Linked DNA regions of Homo sapiens. The protein of the gene in region 1 purifies or fractionates together with the protein of each later gene. This does not show direct contact. Each region holds a gene or a part of one and is shown in the gene's direction. Other genes may lie near its edges. The genes, in order: SPCS2, TM9SF4, TMEM87A and PACC1.

Region 1 (4,842 bases):
GATAATACTAGCTTGACAATCCACTGAATATGTCCTAATAAATGGAAACAGGGTGGGGGATGTCAGCCTACCAGTAATTGGTGTCATTAAACCCTCTTGAATGAATGGACATAGTAATGGCCTTCAGGGTACCTTGAAGTATAGCTAAAGGAATCTCTGGAGTTCATTTAGTAAAGCAGTTGGCATCCCTGGCCTGGGATCAGAGTAAAACCTGGAGCTAGATTGATTACAGAGTGCAAGGACTAGGCACCCCGGGATTGGAGAGCATCCTTGAAAGCAAGGGTTCTTCATTTATTTATAAAAATTTGATTGCCTACTAGAAGCCCAGCTAAGAGTATGAAGCAATTAAGACAACAATCTTTGCTCAAGAATCTCCTAGACAATCCTGATTCAAGCACCAGAAACAAAGGGAAAAGAAACCTCCCAGTCTAGTGAAGAAAGTAGTACACATCATGTCAACAGATAGGTAATTTTGTTGATACCATAAGAGCCTATTATTAGGCCTGGCATATGACAGGAGGTCAGTATTTGAGTTGAGTATTGATTGATGGTACTGTGGAAGACAGAGGAAACACATCTGACCCAGATTGGTAGGCTTTCCCAGAAAAGTTTATGCCCAAGTATAGTGTTAACAAATAAGAACTTCTCAGGTGAGATAGGGGAGAAGAGTCTGCGAGGAAAACCTGTCTAGCATGGCAAATACGAAGTCCAGAGATGAGAGAAGATGGTCCACGTGGTTTAAAAGTCTACAACAAGGTAAAGGAGGTACACAGTAATTAAAGTAGGAAAGATATGTCAACACCTAAGAATCAGAACTAGTATCTTGAAAAGTTAGGAGCCCTGGGGTTTTGTTTTTGCTTTTGCTTTTAAAGGATGTGTTTGTTCCCTGTATCACCGTGCCCAGCTTACTCCTTTTCTTCGGAAACACTTGGTGCCGTATTGTTACTGGTTGAATCTCTGTGTTTGGTTTTTAATTTGTTATCTTTGCCCCCATGCTTAGGTTTGATGACAAATACACCTTGAAGCTGACCTTCATCAGTGGGAGAACAAAGCAGCAGCGGGAAGCCGAGTTCACAAAGTCCATTGCTAAGTTTTTTGACCACAGTGGGACACTGGTCATGGATGCATATGAGCCTGAAATATCCAGGCTCCATGACAGTCTTGCCATAGAAAGAAAAATAAAGTAGCCAATTCTAAAAGTAGCCCTCTTTCTCCTGGATCTTGCTGAATTAGTGGCTTGGGGGGTGGGGGAGATAAAAAGAACTTAAAATGGGTAAAGTAAGAAATGTTAAAAAGTCCCTGTTTTGTCCTGAAATTTTAGTCTATTCTGGGTAAATAGGATTTTCTGACACAGATATGAGAAGTTGTAGCTCTGATGTCTAGCTGTAGTCTCCTTGATCTGCTGATTGCATTATTTTAATTTGCTTTTCTGGGAAAGCAGTTTTGCTAAAAGCTGTACAGACTTTTTCTTTTGTACCTAGCAGTACTTTATATAGTATAGCTTTGGGCCATGTAGCATTTTAAGACTCAATTTTAAAAAATTATTAATCTGTTGCTGACTCTTAATTCCTATTTCAATATGTGTTTCCTTGAAGAATTCAGGATACAACTTCTTGTGTATGACAGCTTTCCTTCACACACTATTTTTGTGGGTGTGTATATATCTGATTTGGGAAGAATTTAAAAAACACATAGCTTTTTAATTTGTTTGAAACAGACTTTCTGCCTGTTACATTTTTGCTTTTAACCAATTAAAGAAGCCAATGGCATTTTAGTTTTATATTGTGTTTTCCACTAGTATATCCCTGTTGATTTGTTTGTGCCTTTTATTAACTGCCATTTTCTAAAATTTTTTTCAATAAAAGGAAGGAAGATGTGAAAAAAATGGAGTCATAGTTTTGATGGAGAGAACAGAGAAACAAGTGTTAACATCTTTCTACTATAGGTTTTTTTCATTTTTAGGCTATTTTACTTGTCAAAGGCCCCTGAGAACCTGTAGCTAAGGAACTCTTAGCTTTCCAGTGATAATAACAATAATAACAACATTCTGTACTTACTTTGTGCCAGAAATGCTCCAAGTACTTTACATGTGTTAATAATGCTCACAGCAATCCTAAGAGGCAGGTGCTGTTATTATCCCCATTTTACACATGAGGAAACTGAGATACAAAAGTTAAATAATTGTCACACAGCTAGTGATAGAACTGGGATTCAAACCTGGGGAGTCCGGCTTCAGAGTTTGTGGTCCTGCAGAGACAAAACAGCCGCTTTTCCAGTATTTTCCCAGTATGGTCAGAGAAGACCTGGGTGCTTGCCAAGATCCTTTGACCTTTAGGAATATTTCCCTACAGCCTTACAAAACATCAATTTTGGCTGAGCCTAGTACCCAACACTATATTCAGTTTGTAAGAAATTACCATTATCACATTTCCTGTTTGTCTTGGAGAGGTTGTCCTATCTCGCACCACATGGTAGGGAATTGTGAACAACACTGGACAGAAAGTTAAAGCCTTGGATTCTGTACTCTTCATTCCTGTAAACCTTGGGTAAGTTTCGGAATTCTCTGTGAGCTTCTTAAAGTTTTTGAAAGCATGTAACCGGATAAGTGTATTTTTACAATGGAGGAGTTACAGTCATCTTGGTATTTGTGGGAGATTGGTTCCAGGATCCCCAAGCATACCAAAATCCAAGGATGCTCAAGTCCCTTATATAAAATGGTATAGCATTTGCATATAACCTACACACATCCTCCCATATACTTTTAATCACCTCTGGATTACCTATAATACCTAATATAATGTAAATGCTATGTAAATAGTTATACTGCATTGGTTTTTTAATTTATATTTTTTGTTATTTTTTAAAATATATTTTTAATCCATGGTTGGTTAAATCTGTAGATATAGAGGGCCAACTGTACTGTTAGACACAAGGGTCTCGAGGCTTGCAGATAGAGACTGAATAACCCTCTCCATGATGATCCCTTAGAGTTCCCCCACTGTGCCTTTTTCTTTACATGTGCATGCAAACATGTGTCTCCACATACATTTTTTTTAACAAAAATTGAATTATGTTGATATATGTCCTGTAATTTGTGTTTTAAACTTAATATATCTTAGGCATTTTCCCTGTGTGTGTGTATAATGCAGCTATTAAAAATGAGTCTGAGGCCAGGCATGGTGGCTCACGCCTTTAATCCTAGCACTTTGGGAGACCAAGACAGGTAAATCACCTGAGGTCAGGAGTTCGAGACCACCTTGGCCAACATGGTGAAACCACATCTCTACTAAAAATACAAAAAATTGGCTGGGCATGGTGGCAGATGCCTGTAATCCCAGCTACTTGGGAGGCTGAGGCAGGAGAATGGCTTGAACTGGGAGGCGGAGGTTGCAGTGAGCCGAGATCACACCCTGCACTCCAGCCTGGGCAACAAGAGCAAAACTCCGTCTCAAAAAAGAAAAAAAAAAGAGTCTGACATACATATATATAAAAGAAACTGTTCTAAAATACCAGAAGTGCAAAGGCAGGGGACCAATTGCAACAAGTAGCTGGGGTGATAACCCCTATATATATATACACATAGGTCAGTCTCATTTTTAATAGCTACATAATATTCCATAGTATAAGTGATTTTACTTTAATACCCTATTGATGATAATTTTTCCCCAGTTTTTTTCACTATTCCAGGAAGGAGTATGGATTGAGGAGAGGGGAAGAAAATAGGTCCTCAAATGAGAGACAAGAAACCTGGGTTGTTAGCAACTTTTTTCTAATTTGTGACCTTGAATACATCCTATTCCTTTTCTAGGGTGAAGTCTCTTGTTAAAAAAAAAAAGTTTTAGAGAATGTATTTTGAGATTATGAAGACTCCTTATTCCCTGGGAAATAAAAAACATCCCTTATGATTACAAAGAATGTTGGGTGCCATATCCCCAATATCTGCCTATAAGGCTCACTGGAGACTTCTTGGACTACATGGATCTATTTTAAGGTTTTTCCCTGACTCCAGAAACCAGTTGAAGCAGTTTAGATTTGTTGAAGAAGTGGGTTATCAGCCCAGCTACATGTTGCAGTTGGTCCCCTGTCTTTGCACTTGTGGCATTTTAGGAGTGTCTCATCACATGAACAAAAAGTACCCTCTGCAGGCTCAAGCCTCAGCATGGGCACACTTTGTAGAGCTGCAGAGTGCCTCTGGCCAGCTTCTGACACATGCATCTACTGAGTGGCCATTTCAGCCCAGTCCAGAAGGCTGCTGGGCTGCTCTGTACCCTCTAGTAGGTCTGCAACACCCTTGCCACCAGGAAACCCTGACACCCATCACATCATCATGAGTGAAGTTCTCAGTTCCTCACACTTACCTCAGACGGACTTTTTTCTAGAAAATAGAGGGCCACTGAGGACAGTGGAAAAAGATCCTAATGTTTTTTCATTATTTGCAAATTTCAACTGCTAATATGTATTTAATGTTTGTCATGCTTTTATATACGTGTAGAAACAATCTTTGCTTCAGAACAATTTCGGGGAATGGAAGAAGATGCAAAGTCCCTTTGCATACACACAAGTTGTGTTTTTCTCTGGACCCAAGTTCCTCCTCAGCTTGGAGCCCGATCTCTCACTAACTCTACCTTATCCACTCCTGGCTAGCCCCACCCACACCCCAAACCTTTTCTCCATGGTGGAAGTCATCAGAGAAAACTGTTAATAGCACGTTAATTTAGACTTTTAGAATATATCCTGTCCCCACTGACAGCCTTTTTTGTTATTAAATAGAGTATTCCTAACAACCCAACCCACCCTATGGTCCCCTTCTCAGAATAATGTTTTAAATACATACACATATCA
Region 2 (5,208 bases), on another chromosome or scaffold:
GAAATGGCAAGTGTAAGGGGCCGATGTGGAAGGGAGCTTGGTGTTTTTGAGGAACACACAGAAGGCTGGAGGGGCCGAAGCATGATGAGGGTTGGGGTAGGAGAGAATGATACAAGATGAAACTGGAGGGAAGCAAGAGCAACTGTTTTGAGAAGCATGCCTGGAAATGGGAAGGACTGCGGTCTACATTTTGTTGTCTGTGGATTGCATTTTGAAATAGTGTTGTATTAGGCTGCTTCCCCTTCCCATCCCCTTCAGGACAGTACTTGAAGGGAGCCAGCTTGTTCTCAGTTGGCACAGAGGCTGTGGAAAGGAGTTTGGATTTTAGTCTAAGCACAGTGGAAGGGACAGTGATTTTTGCCCAGCACAGTGACTCACACCTGTAATCCCAGCACTCTGGGAGACCAAAGCTGGGAGATCGCTTGAGCTCAGGAGTTTGAGACCAGCTTGGACAACATGGCAAACCCCTCTACAAAAAAAATACAAAAAGAAAAAATTAGCTGGGCTTGGTGGTGTGCACCTGTAGTACCAGCTACTTGCGGGGCTGAGGTGGGAGGATCACTTGAACCTCAGTGAGCCCTGATCACTGCACTGCACTCCAGCTTTGGCAACAGAGCGAGACCCTGTCTTAAGAAACAACAACAGGCCGGGAGCAGTGGCTCATGCCTGTAATCTCAGAATTTTGGGAGGCTGAAGCAGGCAAATCACTTGAGGCCAGGAGTTCAACACCAGCCTGGCCAACATGGCGAAACCCTGTCTTCTAAAAATACAAAAATTAGCAGGGTGTGGTGGCACACACCTGTAATCCCAGCTACTCGGGAGGCTGAGGCACAAGAATCGCTTGAACCCGGGAGGCGGAGGCTACAGTGAGCCAAGATCGTGTCACTGCACTGCAGCCTGGGTGACAGAGTGAGACCCTATCTCAAAAAAAAAAAAAAAACAAAAAACAAAACACACCACCACCAACAAAACCCTGCAAGTACGGTGATTTAGTGTTTGTTGTGCCACCTGGGAGTGTTGTACTGAAAACAGTAACTGATTTAAAGAAACTGAGTATGTAACATATGCAGTGACCCACAGAGGCCAGTTTAAAGGGTGCATATGGAGAAACTTCATATCTGGTGCAATAGTGAAAAGGTGTGGAAGCAAATTTATTACAGGGGTATGTGATGAAGGGGCAAAGTGGAGTCACAGGCTTGAGTTTGGTCTGTGTCAGCACTTCATTACACGGAAGTCAGAATAGTCCCCACACCCTCATACACACCCTCATTTCATAACCATTGGGGCGAGGGGGTGCGGTAGACCTACTTTGGAGTGTATGGGTCTCTGAGGTGAGTCATACAGCCAAAGAGGAACTGAACTAGTGGATCCAGTGGCCGTGGGAATAGCTGGGTTGCTGGTTTGTCCTTTGTTTTGAAAGTTAGGGTTGTGGGTGCAAGTGCGGTGGCATGTGAGCTTTTCCCTTTCTCTCTTTCCTTGGTGAATGGCTCTTCTTCCCCAAGGGTTGAGCCGCCAGCTCCCAGAACAATGTCAGTATGGAGGGTGTTTCCTGAACCCGCAGGGCAAGACTTCTCCCTCCATAGAAGATAGCTGGTGTAAACTGAAGTTCTCTTTGATTTTCCTGTCTTCTTCCATCCTTAGATTTAGACTACTCTGTAAAGTTACAGGATACAGTGTTGATCTAGCTAGGTCTGAATTGAGATGCGGGCTCATGTCTCACTCTTTATGGAAAACGGTTCTTGGGAATATTATTTCATTGAAACTTGGGAAATGTCCATTGAGTACATTTCTAGATGTGTCAGGAGTCTAGAAACTTCAGTTTGGAGAATAAAACTCTACTTCCCTCACATCATTGTTCATACTGTTTTGGTTTTTATTATAATCTTCTTTATGGATATAATTCATATGCCATAAAATTCACCCCTTTAAAGTATATAATTTAGTGGGTTTTAGTGTTTTTATAGGTTGTGCATACACTAAATGTGATGGTTATCACCATTGTGTAATTCGGAACATTTCATCACCCCAAAAAGAGAGTCACTCCCTACTCTTCCCTCCCCACAGCCCTAGGCAACTACTAATTTACCTTCTGTCCCTATAGATTTGCCTATTCTGGACATTTTATACAAAGATAATTATATAATATGTGATCTTTTGTGTCTGGCTTCTTAGCATAATGTTTTCAAAGTTTGTTTATGTTGTATCATGTATCAGTAGTGCCGCATCCCTTTTTATGGCTGAATCTTCCCTTGTATGGATGTACCACAGCTTGTTTATCACTCATCAGTTGATGGATATTGGGATTGTTTTCACTTTTTGGTTGTTAGGTATAATGCTGCTGTGAACATTCAGGTGTAAGTTCTTGTGTGAACATACATTCAGTTTCCATGGGTGTATGGAAGTGTATTCCTGCATCAGTTCACACTGTTTTGAGGTTACTTGGGTTTGAGCCACTCCAGAAACAGGAATGGAATAAATGACATCAAGATTCCTTTGTGCTAATGGAGCCAATGCCAGTAGTCCCTCCAGCCCCAGTCAAAGGCACAGAAACTGGTTTTGTTTGTTTGTTATTATTATTTGAGACAGGGTCTCACTCTGTCATCCAGGCTGGAGTGCAGTGGCACGATCATAGTTCACTGCAGCCTCCACCTCCCGGGCTCAGGCGATCATCTTGCCTTAGCCTTCTGAGTAGCTGGGACTACAGGCACGCACCACATCCACCTAATTTTTTAATTATATTTTTCTTAGAGACAGGGTCTTGCTATGTTGCCCAGGCTAGCCTTGAACTCCTGGCCTCAAGCAATCCTCCCGTCTTGACCTCCCAAAGTGCTGGGATTACAGGTGTGAGTCACTGTGCCCAGCAAAAACTGTTTTTAATGGTGAAATAGCGTGCTAATCAGGTTGGATGATAGAGTCCTGGAACAGAAGGCCAGAGGCCTGAACTGTGCCATCAGTCTTGTGTGCAGGAAGTTGCTGTCTCCTCTGGACCCCATGTACAGGAGGACATGAGCTGACTGAAGAAGGAACGCTGGAGCAGGAGCCAGCAGCCTGGGCTTGGTCCCAGCGCTGCCACTGATGCATTGTGTGGCCTGGGGCAAATTACTTTGGCTTCATTAGTCTGTTTTCCACATATGTCATGTGTGAAATTAAGGTTTGTACTTGATGATTTCCAAATTCTGAGTTGAAAATTTTGTAGTTTGGAATACTTTAAGGTGAGTTTTGCTAATATGCCTATAAAATCAGACTTATTTTGTTTTTTCCATGATGATGGTCACTGTGATCTTTCCAAGCTGTTGTGTTGGTTGTATTGTCTGTCTGATCACCCAGGTTTCCCCACCTGGCTCATGTTCTGCAGGAGCTACTGTGTCCTTGGAGCTGAGGTGCTGACATCGGGCCTTGGTTAAATGTGTTTCTCTGAGGGGTCCCTTTAAAGGAATGCCCTTAATCCCCCTCAGGAAGTACAGAGGAGGTTGGGATCACATTAAGTTGCCTCTTAGTTTCTGTTTTACAACTTGGACAAACGTCTCCCTTTGATCTTGGCATTAAAGAAGCACGTCAGAGAATGTTGGAGAAGGCTGAGTTTTGATCTCTGGGCACTGGCAAAAAGGTGGGAAGGACCCAGGATGAGAAGAGCCATCTGGCCACGGATGAATAATAGGAGCCACTACCACCTTCAAGCCTGCTTTGATCCCTGAACCATTTGCTGACACTAGAGTTTCCCAAATGGGGCATGGATGGGGACACCCAGGACTTCTCAGTTCCATCTCATTCCTTTTCATTGCTTCCTTCTCTCCCTTCCTAACATGGTTTCTCACCTATGCCTGATGCTTTAAACCAACAGACCTCCCAGGGTTTGAAATCCTCTTATGCTTGGTCTGAGAATCTGGGCTAGACTCCCAGCTCTGACACTGTGATTACTTTTGTGACTTTGGACTGATTGGTTATGTGATTTTGGGAAAACCGTTTGCGCTTTTAAGCCTCAATTACCTTATATTAAAATTTTTTATTGTGGTAATAACAAAACCTACCACTTTAAGCTTTTTTTTTTTTTTTTTTTTTTTTGAGACAGAGTCTCACTCTGTCGCCCAGGGTGGAGTGCAATGGTGCGATCTCAGCTCAGTGCATTACTGCAACCTCTGTCTCCTGGGTTCGAGCGATTCTCCTGCCTCATCTTCCCAAGTAGCTGGGACTACAGGCATGTGCCACCACGCCTGGCTAATTTTTGTATTTTTAGTAAGGATAGGGTTTCGCCATGTTGGCCAGGCTGGTCTCGAACTCCTGACCTTGGGTGATCCACCTGCCTCAGCCTCCCAAAGTGCTGGTATTACAGGCATGAGCCACCATGCCTGGCCCACTTTAAGCATTTTTAAGTGTGCAGTTCAGTGGCATTAAGTACGTTTACACATATGCAGCTGTTAGCACTATCCGTCTCCAGAACTTTTTCATCATCTCATTTTTGAAACAAGGATGATATTCTCAAGGGATTGTTGTGATGATTAAATGAAATATGAGATGAAAGTGCTAGCACAGAGAGGGCACTCTGTAACTTTACTCCAAGGTTTGAAGTCTTCCCGTGGTGAGCTATCTAAGCCTGCTGCTTGGGCTAGCTGAGAGTTCTTTTATAAATACCCAAGGTGGAGACAGGAGAGCAGTACGTTTCTGCACTTGGTGGTGTCAGGGTTGAAGTCTGGTTGCCTGTTGCTTCGTGAGGGTGGTTATTAGTTTCACCTGGACTTCCGCAGTGCAGCCTGCTGTGCGTTTTTCCCTACCCCCAAATTACAGCTTTGAGTCTTTCATGTGTCTCTGTTCAACAGCTACTCTGTGTCTGTGGGCTCTGAAATAAAGGCTACATTTTCAGTTTCCTGTGGCTAATTTGTTTTTTGTTTGTTTGTTTGTTTGTTTCTTGCTCTGTGAGTTCTTTAGTTCCATGGGCCTGCTTGGTAAGTTGTCTCTAGCTGTCATTAGCCTTCATTCACATGCGGCTGGATTCTTGGTAAGCTTTAACTGACTGGATAATTGACTTCAGTTAACTGTTGGCAAACTGTGCCCAAAGCCTTTTTCTTTTTTTTTTTTTTCCTCCTTTTTCCTTTTTCTTTTTTTTTTTTTTTTTTTTTTTTTTGCTTAATCTGAGGGAGCAGTTACTGACATGGTCTCAAAATGGTGACTGTCGCCAGGCACAGTGGCTTACACCTGTAATCCCAGCACTTT
Region 3 (5,208 bases), on another chromosome or scaffold:
GTTGAATTAGATAACTAAGTAGGGGAAACAAAGGGGAGAGGTTGGGGCAGAGATAAAAGTTTGGGAGTCATGAAGATAAAGATATTATTTAAAGTCATGAAGGCCAGGCGTGGTGGCTTACGCCATAATCCTCACACTTTGGGAGGCCAAGGCGGGCAGATTGCCTGAGGTCAGGAGTTCAAGACCAGCCTGGACAACACAGTGAAACCCTGTGTCTGCTAAAATACAAAAAATTAGCCGGCTGTGGTGGCATGCACCTGTAGTCCCAGCTACTTGGAAGGCTGAGGCAAGAGAATCGCTTGAACCCTGGAGGCGGAGATTGCAGTGAGCCAAGATCATGCCACTGCACTCTAGCCTGGGTAACAGAACGAGACTCCATCTCCAAAGTTAAATAAATAAATAAATAAAGTCATGAGACTGGATTTGGTCACCAAGGAAGTGAGTATATATAGAGAAGAGGTCCAAGGGCTGGGCCCTTGAATATTTAATATTATTTAGAAGTCTGTAAGATGAAGTAGTTAGCAGAAGAAATTGAGGAGAGACCAGTGAGGTGGGTAGAAAACTGAAGAATGTGTTTCAAGGAGGAAGTGATTGTGTCAAGAGATCCTGATAGGTCAAGTGAGAATTGGCCATTGAGTTTACCTATATGGAGGGTCATAGTGATAGTTTTGGTGAAGAGATAGGGACAAAAGCCTAATTGGGGAGAGTTCCAGAGAGTATAGGAGGAGAGGAATTAGAATAATTGTATAGACAATTATTTAAAGGAATTTTGCTTTAAGTGGGATTAAGTAATGCTATAGCATCACTTTATAGTGCTTTAAGTAGGATTAAGGTTAGTTGTTTTAAGTTTGTTTATTCAATTAAAGGAGTTTTGCTTTAAATGGGATTAGAGATATGGGGAATTTTAATTCTTAAAACTTATTTATTTAACAATTATTTGAGTGCCTCCTATATGCCAGGAAGTATTCTAGGTTTCCAAGATGAATGGGGAGAAAATTCCCTGCTCATATGGAGTTTTCCCCAATGTATAACAAAAAATATAAGAACAAATATTGGTAAGGCCTATGCAGACATGATTTAAGGCAGCACATCTTAAACTACACTACACTAAGGAATCACCTAAGGATTTTGTTAACATGTGGATTCTGGTTGTGTAGGATTTTGAATCTCAAGGAGTTAAGACTTTTTCTCCTTCAAACAGAAGTTGCTCAGAAGACTTTTCATATATTAGGTTTCGAGCTTGCAAATATACTATTTAATGAACCGTAATAGGATATTTGATTATATTAAGGAATCGTTAGAATTTTTAGATTTGATGGTGGTATCTTGGTGATGTTTTTTAAAAGTTTCTTTTGTGGGCCAGGCACAGTGGCTCATGCCTGTAATCCCAGCCCTTGGGGAGGCCAATGCAGGAGAATCGCTTAAGCCTAGGAGTTCTAGACCAGCCTGGGCAACACGGTGAGACCTTGTCTCTACAAAACATCAAAAAAAAAAAAAAAAATTAGCCTGGTGTAGTGGGACGTGCCTGTAGTCCTCAGCTACTCGGGAGGCTGAGGTGGGAGGGTTGCTTGAGCCCAGGAGTTCACGGCTCCAGTGACTGGGCCACTGCACTTCAGCGTGGGCGATAGAGTGAGACCCTGTTTCTTTAGGGGAAAAAAAGAAAGGCCCTTTTGTAGCCATTGAAATACCAAAGAAAAATAAGGTCCTCATTTATTAAAAACACATACTGAAATATATCAAAGATATACTGTCTAGGATTTGCATCAAGAGAATATGAAAGGGTGGAAAGGGGATGGGGTATGCATGGGACAAAACTGACCATAGGTTAGTGGTTGTTGGGCCTTGGTGAAGGGTTTATAAGGGTGCATTATACTACTTGTGAATATGTTTCAAAACTCTCTGAGGAAACATTTTTTAAAATGTGGTAACCAGACACAAGATCTCAAGTTGTAGTGTTCCCTATCTTGTTTTAAGACCATAAGGTCTTAGTTTTTTTCTCTTAGGTGAATCAAGTGTATATTATTTATTGCTTTAAATTGTTGGCCTATATTAATTAACACAAGTTCCTGTTACTTAGCTTGTTTCGGCATTTGTCCCATATGTACTCAAATATCTCCTTGCTTCCTCTTTAGGCCACGCCTTGGAGTCACTCTTCATAAGGTTGTAGTAGCAGGAGCCCTCTATCTTTTGTTCTCTGGCATGGAAGGGGTCCTCAGAGTTACTGGGGTTAGTACTGCTTAATCTCATTTTCTGTGGTCAGTTCAATTATATTGTTTACATCTTGACAGTGTGGATTGGAAATGTCTGTGGGCTTCTTTCTGTTTGCTTTAAGTCACTTTTGGGCTCTGATTTTCAAAATATATGTATAGTTCATGTTCTCTTTTAAATCTATTAGAGCTTTGTAAATTTAGTGTGTGCCCGAATGAATGCTTTTCCACCTGTCTCCAAATTGCTAATTGTTTTAGTTCCTCCTCCCAAGCAGTAGACTTGCATTTTTTTTTCTTTTTCTAATCAATGGAATCCAGACTGAAATCCAGACTGAAATTCTTGTGTAAATGGCAGACTTTGGAGTCATACACTTACTAGTTAATCTAATCTAAAGTAACTGTTGTTTCTTAACATTTCAGTTTCAAAAACTTCCTTAAAATGCAGCTAATGAGGCTGGGTGTGTAATCATGCCTGTAATCCCAGCATTTTGGGAGGCCGAGGCAGGCGGATCACTAGGTCAGAAGATCAAGACCATCCTGGCTAACATGGTGAAACCCTGTCTCTACTAAAAAAAAAAAAAATACGAGAAATTAGCTGGGCGTGGTGGCAGGCGCCTGTAGTCCCAGCTACTTGGGAGACTGAGGCAGGAGAATGGTGTGAACTCGGGAGGCGGAGCTTGCAGTGAGCCGAGATCGTGCCACTGCACTCCAGCCTGGGCGACAGAGCAAGACTCCGTCTCAAAAAAAGAAAAAAAAATGCAGCTAATGAAGTTTCACACCATTTTTGAGAATTGTATAATTATTCCCTTTGCCAGGGAAGGAAACCAAAGAATCTAAGTGATAAAGAAATTTATGGCTGGGAGCAGTGGTGGGTGCCTGTAGTCCTGGCTACTTGGGAGGCTGAGGTGGAAGGACTGATTGAGTTCAGGCTGCGGTGAGCCATGATCATGCCATTACACTCCAGCAACAGAGTGATACCTCTTCCTTAAAAAAGAGGAGAAAAGAAATTTATGTTACCACTGGATTAATACGAAGAAGTATAAGGTTCTCTAGGCCATTTCAATTAATTTTCTTATTTTTTAAAAAAAGACTCCACAGCAACCTATTAGATTCAATATTGTAAAAACTATAAACTTGGCTTTGCCCACAAGAAAACGGCTCAATATGTTTTGCAATAAATTGCCTCTTAAATCAAACACTTTGTGGATGCACATTTGCTTTTCAAATCACACTGTCCTCTGTATGTAATTCTCTTAGACTTCTAGCAACTTTAACCCTCTGTCAATTTCATTTTCTTTCTTCTGCTGTTGCTATAGTATTTTTCTTATCCCTTGACTCTGATAGTAAACCTGGCCCTCTCAGCAATTGACGCCTGTGTTATTTTATGGATATCCTTTCAGTAATGCCTGTTGATTGGGTAATTAGGGTTATATAAAAAACATACTCTATATAAACTCCTGGAAACATGCAGCATAGTTTTTCAGACAGATAATTGCCTTACATTTTATTTTGGGGTGAGCTCTTATTTGTAAAATATTATAATTTTAGAAATTAATAATTCTTTGTATATGATGCAGTAATTTTTTTTAAATACGAGAAAAGTCTTTTCAGACTTGTAGCCAAAATTGCAATAATAGGAAATGATAGATTAAGGATGGGGCTTATAAACATTAGAACTTTTTTGGAATATGGTCACTTGTTAACATGGATCTTTATATATGAAAAACTCGTACTTAGCAGTATGTTTCGAGATTGTAAATGACAATTTATGTGAAATGCTTATAGCTGTATATTCTATGTGATGGTTTATAAGAAGGGAAGAATGATTAGGTGTCAAATGTTCTTTTTATTTTCTTTCAGTTCAATGCAAAAACTTTCCAGTGATTATGTAAATGCAGAATCATGTGGTGGTTTCTTCTCTGTGCCTCTCTAGACATCTGTTTTTCACCACTTCTTTTTCTTTGTCTGCAGGCCCAGACTGATCTTGCTTCCTTGGCCTTTATCCCCTTGGCTTTCCTAGACACTGCCTTGTGCTGGTGGATATCCTTCTCATTGGCTTGTTTGATGATGGTCCATTTTCTCCCCTTGAGATGGGTTTCCATTGATCTTTCTGCAAAGAGTTTTTATCAGTTTTGTTAATTACTCCTTAGTGTGGGGAACAGTGCATGCTAAGTCTTAACAACCTGAGGGTTCAGGTAAGCAGTTTTTTTTGTTTCTATTTTTTTAATTTTAAAAATCAAATTGGAAATTGGTGACTGTGGACCGAGCTCGAGATAAAATCTTTTGGCTTTTTTCTTTTAAGTGAGCATTTCATCTTGATTTTGCACTTCTTGTTTGTGTACCTAATCATTTAGTGTTAGAGTCACTGGCTGTGCTGGTCCTGCTCTGCCTTTTAGCCTCTAGCAATTCTTAAATGCTTTGAAACTTATGAAAAGATTTTGATCCTTAAAATTTGATTTCAGGAACTATGTAAGGTGCTTTGACTTTTCTGAAACTCTGTATGTTCAGCAGGTTTTAACCCTTATGGAGTGAGTGTTTTCTTGCCTCATTCAAAAGCTGGCTTGGAATTGTTTGAAGATTTCCACCCTTCAGAATAAATAATTGATTCATTTACAGGCAGAGTCAACCAGCAGATAACAAACAAGCTTCTATTTGAGCAATCTTTTTCTCCTGCTCTTTAAAATTAAATTTATATATTAGGGGCTTGGCCTGATGGCTAAAGGATTCAAGTTTTTGGACTTTATCTTATTGAATTTGTTTTGGTTTTTATATATTTGGTCCTATTAGCAGTTTTCATTATTACTGACCTGATAGATTGTGACTGTTGAAAAACTGTGAATGTAAACAAAATTGTTTTGTGAATTTGAGTGGGTTGCTGTATAAGAGTTTTCAGTTAAAGTGTCCTTGGACTAAATAGCCAAAGCTTTTCTAGATTAGTATCTTTCTAAGTGTTTTGTGAACCTCTGCAAGCGTTGAGAGAAGAGGGAGGTGGGAATGGATT
Region 4 (5,208 bases), on another chromosome or scaffold:
AGTTTCCATAGGACAAATGACATTGGAAACAAAGTTAAAAGAAAAATGACAGACTGGAAGAAAAGATTGGCACACATAACAGATGAAAGTGATCATCCTTGCTAAATTAAGAGCTTCCATAACTCAAAGAACCAATGAGAAAAGTGGACAGAGGATGAGCTGCATTCAGCTCTGGTTGGGCATCATATGGGGAAAACTCCCCAGGAATGAGCATGAGTCCCAGCCCAGTCCTGTTGTTGGCTAGTGGTCCCTTTGGAGACCACTGGGCAAGGAGCTATGGGCTTTCCAGTCAGTACTTCTGCCCTCAGACCCAGAGGCCTCTGTGTACTCTCCCAGGACTGAGACTCTGTCCTTTTTCTCTCTGCAGAAATCTGCCCTGATTGTCCAGGGGCCCCGGGAAGTGAAAAAGCGGGAGCTGGTCTTCCTCCAGTTCCGCCTGAACAAGAGTAGTGAGGACTTCAGCGCCATTGATTACCTCCTCTTCTCTTCTTTCCAGGAGTTCCTGCAAAGGTGGGCTTTTAGAGTTCACAGTGGGCTTACTGTCTACTTTTTATCTTATTCCAGCTGTGTATGTCCCAAGGCTAGAGACGGAGGGGTGAGGGCAGGGAAGGGAAGGGGCATTCTCAGATGACCCACTGGCCCAGGAAGGGACCTCATGAGCTTGGCCGGTCCACTCAACATCTTATCACAAAGTTAAGCAAATCTGGTGTGGAGGAGCATGCTGGCTCTCCATGCACATAGTGCTGGCTGGTTCTAGAGAGATCATTTGGTCTCACCATTGCCTGGGGCTGCTGAGGAGTAGGGGAAGTTGCCTTTGATTTGTAAGTCCCTTTGAGAGCAAGTTCTTGTGTGGTTCCTTGGTTTCCCCCACAGTGTGCACAGGAACCACATCTTGCCCTTAGTGCGGGCTTAATGTATGTTTGCCTGAAATACAGTTGGTCCTTGAACAACTTGGGGTTTGGGGTTACCAAACTTAACCACTCCTGCCTATGCAGCCAAAAATTTGTGTATAACTTTTGACCCCCAAAACTACTAACAGCCTACTGTTGACAGAAGCCTTACCAATAACATAAACAACACATATTGCGTGGTTATATATATCATAGACTGTATTCTTACGATAAAGTAAACTAGAGAAAAAAAATGTTATTAAGAAAATCATGGCCAGGTGTGGTGGCTCACACCTGTAATCCTACCACTTTGGGAGGCCAAGGTGGGCGGATCACGAGGTCAGGAGATCGAGACCATCCTGGCTAACATGGTGAAACCCCATCTCTACTAAAAATACAAAAAATTAGCCAGGCGTGGTAGCGGGCACCTGTAGTCCCAGCTACTCAAGAGGTTGAGGCAGGAGAACCGATTGAACCCAGGAGGCAGAGTTTGCAGTGAGCTGAGATTGCGCCACTGCACTCCAGCCTGGGCAACAGAGCGAGACTCCAAAAAAAAAAAAAAGGAAATCATAAGGAAGAGAAAATATACTTACTATTCATTCAGTGGAAGTGATCATTGTAAAGGCCTTCATCCTCATCGCCTTCATGTTGAGTAGGCTGAGGAGGAGGTTTGGTCTTGCTGTCTCAGGAGTGGCAGAGGCAAAAGAAAATCCGCACGTGAGTGGACCCAGCCAGTTCAAACCTGTGTTGTTCAAGGGTCTACTGCATCTCTGGTATGAGGATATAAGCTCTGCCACCTCTCTTAGTCTTCGATTTACAGTGATGAATGTCCCCTGACCATCAGAAAGTTCTTGTCTGCTCCACACACACTGCTTTGGGGTCACACCGTGGAGCCTAGAGGGCAGGAGAATTTTCTTCATGTGCCTGAGTTGAGAGGGACTCAGTTCCTACCAGGTCCTGCTGAGCCCAGAGGCTCCATTCAGAGCAAGCAGGGAGGCAGCTACAGGGGCAGGGAGGCTGCTCCCCAGCTGGACATGCAGCGAGCTGCCTCCATTCCACACCACCACTGCTTTGTTCTTCCACCCCAGAGCTCGGAGCCTCTGCCTTAGCATTTTCCACCCTTTCTGCCACCTAGAATTCCCTCTCCCTTCCCTGCTTCAAGCTGGCCATCTTGCCTTCCTCCTGGAAGACTTTCCCCGGGATCCCACCCCCACTCCACGCTCCTTTCGTGAGCTTCCTCGGTATGCTGCTGCAGTTTTTACTTGTTTTTATGTTCGCTTTGATTTTGCTGCATCTGCACCGTCTTGGGGCTGATGCTGTAGGTGACCCATCTGGCTGAGACCTCCCCAAGGAACCCTCTTCCCCTCTTTGGGCCTTCCATGGGAGCTGACAGGCTGGTGAGGGCTTCCTCAGGCTCTGCTGAAGTCCAGAGTTCTCTGAGGAGCTGTGAGCGCCATGTTCTGGGGAGCTTCTGCCAACTTCATTGCCGACAGCTTTGGTAGCCATCGATAGGAATGATGGGAGGAGGGAGGAAGATTTCTCCCACTGGGAGCTTCAAGGATCATGTTCCTGCCTTGAGGCCAGTGACTACCCCTCCATTTGGAAACCAAATGGAGAGAAAAGAGGGATGGGCCTTGCTTTTGCTGGTGACTGACAGCCCTGTTGAGGCAATCACAATTTGGAGAGGAGGCAGGGAGTGGGCAGCATCCTGGTTGTGCCAGCAAAGAAACCAGCTTGCAGTGGGGGCTTCGACTCCTGCTGCCAGACCTGCATTGACCTGGATCTTCCTTCTCCTTCCTTCCTCCAAGCCCAAACAGGGTAGGCTTCATGCAGGCCTGTGAGAGTGCCTATTCCAGCTGGAAGTTCTCTGGGGGCTTCCGCACCTGGGTCAAGATGTCACTGGTAAAGACCAAGGAGGAGGATGGGCGGGAAGCAGTGGAGTTCCGGCAGGAGGTAGGTGGCTCTGGGTTTGCTTGAAACTGCTGGTGACTTTTCCACATTCGAGTCTGAGGTGGAGGGAAGCTTTGCAGAGAAGGCTCCTTTGAGCAGGGCCTTAAGGGTGAGTAGGCCTTGGTCAGGATGAGAAGGGACTCCCATGGAGGGCTTCATATGCTATGCCAGGGAGTCTGTGTGTGCTTCTGCAGGCAGCGCACATACCGGCCAGTCCTCACGGAATGCATGTGTGGGGCAGAGATCATTGTGGCTTGCAGAGAGGTCAGTAACTCGCCCAGCTGTGTCTGATGTCTTGCATCTAGCAGCACTTTGAGGGGCTGGCAGTGGCCTAGCAGATTGATTATTTGCAGGGAAGAGAGACTAGACACAGTGGTCCCAAGTGTGCATGTTGATCCTTTTCCTAAGGTCCTCTTCAGCTCTCACAGGTGTCACAGCGAGAGATGCCAGGTGTATCTCCTGGCTGCTAGGCCAGTGGGCTGAAAGCTTTTTGATCAGATTTCCCATTAGTAAAAACTTTTTGATCATATACTCCATATACATATAACTCTGCAGGTGATATAACATACTATTATTGTCTTAGTGTTATATACACTTTAAACATTCAAAAATAGAAATGTTAAAAGGATGAGATAAAAATAAATAGTAAAAAAAGCTAGTCTTTTCTTCTTGTATCCCAGTGGCTCGGGATGCTCATCTGGAGCAGAAGGACACACTCCAGTCAACTAGGCCATCACTGGCCAGAAGTTAGGCCGGAGAAGACTGTCTTGGGTTAGTCTTAAACAGGGCCCTGTCATGAGCCCTAGCTCCTCAGACTAGTCCAGGCTGGTTACTTGGAAGAGGCTCAAAGCCAGTTTTCTTCAAGGAAGCAAGGCTATTTTTCCTGCCTTGGGAAGTGACAACCCCTCCTGGTGACTGGACCTTAAAATCTTCCTGTTTTGTAAGATAACTGTCATCTCCCAGATTTTTACCTCCAAATTTGCTCCAAGAAATTCAAGTCCTTTCTTATCTGGCCCCACAGCAGCTCTGAGGAAGGAGACTGTGTTCACTTACCTTACAATTAAGTTCAACCCCATCTACCCTGGATTTTCTGATAGCTCCCACTGTGATCCGAAACCAAAGGGTGAAAACTCTAGTGAACCTGTACATTAAAGAAATTTTAGCATCTTTTATTACTGTCTAAATTGGAAGTCTTTTGTTGGCATTATGAGCTCTTTTGAACAAAACTAAAAAATGTGTTTTAAAATCACATTTTAGAGTTTAGAGTGCTCTCACATAGGTATGCCCCTATACTGTAGTGACGTAGGCATTTTGTTCAGCTTTGTGGGTGGCAAAGCTGAGGCTCAGCTTCGATGATGGATCTGAGCCTCTGGGTGGAGCTGGTTTCTGCCTTTGTTACCTGTCTGCTCTCCGTTACACCACACAGCGTCTTTAGTAATTGACAACCAGATCTCACCAAGCACACCTACTAAGTATTTACAGGGAATGCTCAGCTGTGTGGATCTATGCAGCTGTGCTTTGTCCCTGTAAACTTGAAGGGTTGAAACAAGCGTTGAAAATTCAGAGAAATACTTGATCTGAAAACCAAGTACTTTGAAATTTGGAATTTTTATTGCTTTTAATTGTGAGTCTTACATGGTAGTTTGAATATGGTTTATTTTTAATATTTTATTTTTTTTGGAGACAGAGTCTTGCTCTGTCCCCCAGGCTAGAGTGCAGTGGCACTATTTCGGCTCACTGCAACCTCTGCCTCCCAGATTCAAGCGATTCTCCTGCCTCAGCCTCCTGAGTAGCTGGGATTGCAGGCGCCCACCACTACACCTGGCTAATTTTTGTATTTTCAGTAGAGACAGGGCTTAACCATGTTGACCAGGCTGGTCTCAAACTCCTGACCTCAGGTGATCTGCCTGGCTAGGCCTCACAAAGTGTTGGGATTACAGACGTGAGCCAACATGCCTGGCCTGAATATGGTTTAATTGTGAGTACAGATACCTAGTGACAAATTTCAGTGACAATCCAAAACACCTATTGTAAATCACAGATCCCATTTCCCCAGAGAACTGTGGAAACCAAGGTAAAGCCTTGGCTTTGCTACCAATGTCAGGATCTTGTATATATGAGATTTTTGCCACTCTCTCTCCAAAAAATAGTGTGAGGAGAACCACAGACTATGATCCCCTGCCTACTCTCTCTCCTTTCGCTGGGCACAGGCAAGGGAAGGGCACACAGAGGTGGTAACACTGCTTTCTCTCCTCCACATCTAGACAAGTGTGGTTAACTACATTGACCAGAGGCCAGCTGCCAAAAAAAGTGCTCAATTGTTTTTTGTGGTCTTTGAATGGAAAGATCCTTTCATCCAGAAAGTCCA

Evidence for each region.
Region 2: the proteins of SPCS2 (region 1) and TM9SF4 fractionate together in Homo sapiens (co-fractionation; one large-scale study listed by BioGRID). This does not show direct contact.
Region 3: the proteins of SPCS2 (region 1) and TMEM87A fractionate together in Homo sapiens (co-fractionation; one large-scale study listed by BioGRID). This does not show direct contact.
Region 4: the proteins of SPCS2 (region 1) and PACC1 purify together in Homo sapiens (co-immunoprecipitation; one large-scale study listed by IntAct). This does not show direct contact.

What each region holds. Positions count from the first base shown.
Region 1 is NC_000011.10:74,975,857-74,980,698, forward strand, and holds the end of SPCS2 (signal peptidase complex subunit 2), read left to right. Parts: intron 1-1,000; coding exon 1,001-1,187; 3' UTR 1,188-3,177; downstream 3,178-4,842. UniProt on the Homo sapiens protein: Component of the signal peptidase complex (SPC) which catalyzes the cleavage of N-terminal signal sequences from nascent proteins as they are translocated into the lumen of the endoplasmic reticulum.
Region 2 is NC_000020.11:32,111,770-32,116,977, forward strand, and holds part of TM9SF4 (transmembrane 9 superfamily member 4 isoform 1 precursor), read left to right. Parts: intron 1-5,208. UniProt on the Homo sapiens protein: Associates with proteins harboring glycine-rich transmembrane domains and ensures their efficient localization to the cell surface.
Region 3 is NC_000015.10:42,230,231-42,235,438, reverse strand, and holds part of TMEM87A (transmembrane protein 87A isoform 1 precursor), read left to right. Parts: intron 1-2,132; coding exon 2,133-2,226; intron 2,227-3,523; coding exon of another isoform or gene 3,524-3,595; intron 3,596-4,178; coding exon 4,179-4,247; exon of another isoform or gene 4,248-4,317; intron 4,318-5,208. UniProt on the Homo sapiens protein: Potential monoatomic ion channel gated by mechanical force, implicated in normal touch sensitivity through the generation of mechanically activated currents.
Region 4 is NC_000001.11:212,375,197-212,380,404, reverse strand, and holds part of PACC1 (proton-activated chloride channel), read left to right. Parts: intron 1-367; coding exon 368-510; intron 511-2,698; coding exon 2,699-2,843; intron 2,844-3,520; exon of another isoform or gene 3,521-3,611; intron 3,612-5,104; coding exon 5,105-5,208. UniProt on the Homo sapiens protein: Chloride channel gated by pH that facilitates the entry of chloride ions into cells upon exposure to extracellular acidic pH. Involved in acidosis-induced cell death by mediating chloride influx and subsequent cell swelling.